Linked DNA regions of Homo sapiens: region 2 is linked to region 1. Evidence: fine-mapped expression QTL. A gene starts in region 1. The other region holds a variant in brackets. All regions are shown on one strand. Distances are between the middles of the regions.

The links.
Region 2: its variant is fine-mapped to the expression of CLDN10 in tibial artery (GTEx, PIP 0.99).

The regions. Positions count from the first base shown.
Region 1 is chr13:95,551,652-95,554,557 of GRCh38, forward strand. CLDN10 (claudin 10) reads left to right here and starts at 1,069. Exons shown (of 5, transcript NM_006984.5): 1 at 1,069-1,322. The coding sequence starts at 1,103.
Region 2 is chr13:95,482,243-95,485,148 of GRCh38, forward strand. The region is part of intron 3 of CLDN10-AS1 (CLDN10 antisense RNA 1); the gene reads right to left. It also overlaps a transcript of CLDN10 not described here. Among named protein-coding and RNA genes, the nearest start is that of CLDN10-AS1, 50 kb to the right of the region's middle. The variant T/C (reference allele first, on the strand shown) is at 1,556.

The DNA.
Region 1 (2,906 bases):
GACCTTTCCTTACTTTTGGCAACAAGTGAAACCTGGAAGCTCATAACAAAACTGCAAGAACCTTTAAGTGGACAAATAATAACCCGTGTCCTTGTTCTCTCATTTATGCCCAGATTTGTGGCCTCAGGAGCCAGAAGTACACCTTGATCTTTATGTTTACCTTGAGACAGCAATGAAGGGATGAAGGAATGAATGAGTTTATATTTCAATTAGGCGTGAGAGATGGAGGTGGTTTAAAAAAAAATAAAAGACAAGATAGCAGTTTTGACTGGGATAACAGCATCCTTTCATAGAATAGCCTCTAGACCTGGAAGCTGGAAGGGACCTACAGGGAAAATGTGTTGAACAAATGCCCTCTGCGTAGTGCATTAGTATGAGTACACCAGCAAGATCAAGATCGTCAGGATGCCCCATCTGCTGCTATCTTGACTTTAGGCCTGTGCCACGCACCGTTTTGCCATGACTTTCCGCATAGCACCAGGCCAAAAAGAACTGCAGAGTTTTGAGGGCAAGGCCGGTTTCCAGCCCAGAATCTGCAATGATCCCTCCTTGACAAGTCAAACAGAGTCACCCAAACAAGCGTGGCACGCAAACCTTTAGAGTTCAGCAAACCGAGGGCTGAGTTACCAAACCGTGTCCTTTCAGGGCATGCAAAAGGCTTTTCCTGCTCTGCTTCTACAAGGTAGTCAGGAAGCCAAGCTATTTGCCTTGGGTAGGGCTGGGTGGGGGTGGTGAGGTGGGGGCGCAGCAGGTTGTCCACACCCGGTTGCCAGTCTGAACCTGAGCCGCTCCAACAAGCGAGCCCTTCTCCGCGGCCCTTTGGCTCAGGGGAGCGCAGGCCGGCCTTCCTCCCGCACGCGGGCGCGGGCCAGCTGCAGATGGAGAACCCGGGGGGCGACCGCGAGCCCTCTGAGGCCCCTCAAGGGACAGGGCATGGGTGTGAGGGGTCGCGTGCGCCCCCTGGCGCCGGGTCCGCTGGGCGGGGTGGTGGGCGGGGACGGTGGGCGGAGGCGGAGGCGGGAGGCGGAGCCCCGGGGTTGGGAGTGCGGGGGTCGCGGCGCAGAGTGGGAGCCGGAGAGCGAGCGCGGCTGCAGCCGGCGGCATGGCTAGCACGGCTTCGGAGATCATCGCCTTCATGGTCTCCATCTCAGGCTGGGTACTGGTGTCCTCCACGCTGCCCACCGACTACTGGAAGGTGTCTACCATCGACGGCACGGTCATCACAACCGCCACCTATTGGGCCAACCTGTGGAAGGCGTGCGTTACCGACTCCACGGGCGTCTCCAACTGCAAGGACTTCCCCTCCATGCTGGCGCTGGACGGTCTGCATCCCCGCGGCCCCCGCCCTCAGCCCTCCTTCCTTGATGGCCAGCCCGCTAGGCGCCCTCTCGCCCCCAATACCCCCAGCGGGACCCCTAGACTGGACTCCTCTGAGGCCCGACCCGTCTCTCCCAACAGGGCCTTAGGGAGCCAGGGACGCTCCTGGTGCCCGCCCTCTCCTGATGGCTGTCTCGCGGGGCGCCTGTTCGAGCCTGGGACCCCGGGAGGGGGGACACGCAGACAGGCCCGGGTTGGTGACTCCCAGGCGTCGGGGGATGGGGAAGCTTTGCGGTCCTGAGAGTCAAGGAAGCGGCTGCCCTCCCCCACCCCCCATATCTTGGGGACCGCTGGGACCCAGAGTTCATGCTGCAGGGGCTTGTCTCCTCCACCTCCCTCCCCTACGTTCCCCGAAGGCTGGGTTCTGATAAAAATGGTGTCATTGCAAGCCAAATCCGTTTGTCCTGACCTCCCTTGAGCCATTTCGTTGGTTCTTTTAAAAGTAGGCGGGGGTGGGGGTTGAGAGGTTGGAAGCGGGAAAACATATTGCAGAATTTGTTGTTGTTATTGTTTCCCTTTAAAGAGCTTCTACAAACTTGTCTGCCTAGGCAACACTACAAACACTTCCTCCGAGTTTTAGGAAAATAATAGCCCTTGCGGTGCCGCGATGAGTCCGCAGAGGGTAGGGAATCTTGGGCCGTGAGAGCGTGGCGCCGGGAGCTGACCAGTTCTGCATCCGAGTCCCCGGTGCCTGCTGCTGTCCTGGGTTGTTCCTTTGTGGAGGTTCACCTGCGTTGCTCTGGTTAGTCAGGCCTTATGCTGGTAGCAGCTGGTGGATATTCACACAGAACTCTGGCTCTGTTGAGTTTCAAGACAACAGCCGATGTCAGCCCGGTCCCATTGATTGCTCAAGTTCTAGGCCCGTTGCTTCCAGGATTTTACAGCAAACGAATCCTGGCAGAAACTTAAGAGGAGTTATTTACATTACATATTTCTAGATTTGAGGTGTTTTTTTCTTTTATTACCGCACTTGCAGGTTTTGTTTACATAGCTGGGTAAATGAAAGAAAATAGTTGATTCCTCTAAGATGGGGTTTGCCACGAAGAGCAAACTGTTGCTCAACGTGGTATTTGATGGAACCTCCGTATAAGGAATACGCATCTAGTTTTAGAAGGGTGGCGCCCGGGTCCGTGTCCTGTTCGGTAAAATAAGCAGCCGGAACAGTGTTTATTCCCCAGCATTACCGTTGAATTTCCTGTGGTTTGTAGAGCACGCATCCAGGTAGATGAACAGGCATTCTCTTGTTCCTGTGATTTATAGTCAGCAATGTGTTACTGTCCTCTGAACACTCTTCTGTTGTAACTCTATTGTTCTCTGAGATAGTGTGCCAGATAGGTACGCTTCCTTCTGTAGGACAGTTGGGGGACAAGGGAGAGAAGGAAATGAATGCTCTATGAATATTATTAAGTGCAGAATAATAAAGTTTTCTCCTACATGTCTGCAGTGAGAGTGGAGGTGGTACCATACCTGTTTGGGGGCAGATCGGGCCGGGAGTGAAGAGGAAGTAGGAATAGTTGTCCTGGTTAGCT
Region 2 (2,906 bases), 69 kb before region 1:
ACAAAAGATTTTTAAAATGTAAAAAACATTTTTTACATAGGCTATACAGAAACAGGTCTGGATGGGGAGGTTAGATTTGGCCCAAAGTCTGTAGTTTGTTGACCCCTTCTCTAATATATATGGCCCAAGTCAGGCGCCGTGCACAGCTGGGTCTAAGAGCTGTGCTGATCTACAAAGCCCACATGAAGCTGCTGTGGCAGAAAGGGTCTAGAGCCTCACTGAGTCATGTCTTTTGGGGATAGATGGGTCTTCTAGGTGCCCATCAAATCACACCTTCTCGGGCTGCCTTCAGTGCACACCTATGAGACCAATCTTGCTGATCCAGGGCAGGAAGTCTAGTCCAGATCCACCCTGCTGTGTTACCCAGGAGCTCAGATTCAGTCTCAGAACCATCTGGATTGTTTTATTCTCATGATGTACTTAATCCTGATTGAAGTATAAATGAATAAACTGGCTGGGCGCGGTGGCTCACGCCTGTAATCCCAGCACTTTGGGAGGCTGAGGTGGGTGGATCACCTGAGGTCAGGAGTTTGAGACCACCCTGGCCAACATGGTGAAACCCCCATCTCTACTAAAAATACAAAAAATTAGCTTGGCATGGTGGCGTGTGCCTGTAATCCCAGCTACTCCGGAGGCTAAGACAGGAGAATCTCTTGAACCCAGGAGGCAGAGGTTGCAATGAGCCAAGATCGTGCCACTGTACTCCAGCCTGGGCAACAAGAGCGAAACTCCATTTCAAAAATAAATAAATACATAAATAAGCCCATTAAACATCACGAATTTAATGTGAGGCCAACATTCTTACTGGTGAGAAATGATTCTCCATCGTTCTTGGGAGAAAGTGACGCTGCCCGTCCTCAGGCCTGGGAGCTGCTGAGGAGGGGAGAGTGAGGAGGTTGGTTTATGTAAAAGGTGTGGCACTGCCACTCTGTGCAGATTCCTGGAGGATTCACCTGACTACTTATTGATTTTTCATTGAACAGCTTTCTCCTCGTTCAGACTGTGGGCTCTCTGAGAAGATGGGGAAACATTATTTGGGAGATTTACCCTTAGGGTGAAAATTATCTAAGCTTATTTCTCAATTTCCCTCTCCTCCCCTCATTTCTCATCTCTAATTTTTTTTCTTTCTTTTTTATTAAAATTTTTTGTAGAGACATGGTCTCACTATGTTGCCCAGGCTGGTCTTCAACTACTGAGCTCAAGCAATCCTCCTGCTTTGGCCTCCCAAAGTGCTAGGATTATAGGCATGACCCACTGTGCCCGGCCTCTTAATTTTTTAAGCATCACAGGTTGTATCCCCAGAAACCAGACTCTAAAGAGGCATTTCATGAAGGCGTGCCTGTGGGAGGGACCACACCTGTGGAAGGTAGGGGACAGAAGCAGGAGTGGGCAGAGCAGTGACGTTGAGCTACAACCCAAGGCTGACAGTCTCAGCAAACCTCACCAAGAGCTCTGGAGTTAGGTGGACTTTTAGAAACATGCCAAGCATGGCTGAGCTGGCCAAGCCCTTATGCTCCACCATCCATTGGTCACTCGATATGAGCTTCCCCAGGCA[T/C]GAGTGTGCTATGGTCTGAATATTTGTGTCCCTCCAAAACTCGTATGTTAAAATGCTAACCCCCAAGGTGATGGTATTGGGATGTGGGGCCTTTGGGAGGTGATTAGGTCACAAGGATGGAGCCCTCGGGATGGGATTAGTGCCCTTATAGAAGACACCCCAGAGAGGTCCCTCCCTTATCCCTTCCACCACATGAGGATACAGTAAGAAGACATTCTCTATCAGTTAGGAAGCCAACCCTCACCAGGCATCAAATTTGCTGGTGCCTTGACTTTGGCCTTCCCAGCCTCTAGAATTGTGAGAAATACATTTCTGTTGTTTTTGAACTACTTAGTCTCTGGTAGGATAGCAGCCCAAAAGGACAAAGATAGGGCATGTCCTTGGGTGAGGCAGCTCTCTGCAGCTCAGTCACTTTCTGAGAGGGCTAAGAGCTACAGGCTGACTGCAGCAGCACTTCTAGCAGCTGGGGCCTGATGTCCTTCACTGTCCTTTCTGGGCAGCATATCACAGTATCCACTGCACACCACTCGGCTATCATTCTGTTCAGATACTTCTTGACTGGTCTTTCTACTTCTAATTTGTTCCATGTAGAATCTATCCTAAACACTACTTCCCTAATCTTTCTTAAAGGAAAATATTGGTAAAATATTTCATAGTCTGTCATTATGAATAATTTTATATGTCATTCCCCTGAAAAGAGGTGTTACAAGGTCAAGTTTTTTCAGTTATGCAGGAAATGTAAGTGTGTAAAGAAGCAGGATGAGGCCAGGTGTGGTGGCTCACGCCTGTAATCCCAGCACATTGGGAGGCCAAGGTGGGCAGATCACTTGAGGTCAGGAGTTCAAGACCAGCCTGGCCAACATGGCGAAACCCCGTCTCTACTAAAAATACAAAAAAAAAAAAAAAAAACCCACAAAAATTAGCCAGGTGTGGTGGCAAGCACCTGTAGTTCCAGCTACTCGGGAGGCTGAGGCACAAGAATCGCTTGGACCCAGGAGGTGGAGGTTGGAATGAGCCAAGATTGTGCCACTGCACTCCAGCCTGGGTAACAAAGTGAGACCCTGTCTCAAAAAAAAAAAAAAAAAAAAAAAAAAAAAAGAAGCAGAGTGCAATACAACATGGTATGATGGGGTCTTATTTAGTTTGATTTAGTTTGCCTCCACTTCACCCCACTGGTGAGGGAGGGATTCCGCCCTAGAGTTGAGAGGATGGTTGAATGTACAACATCCAAGCCTAGACAGATGAGATGGGCAGCAGGTAATTAGTCACATATGCTCATGGCCCAGGGAAGGACGACACTGCCCCACAGAGAGCCACGTGGGGGTTGCAGCTGGGAACAGAGTGAACCACC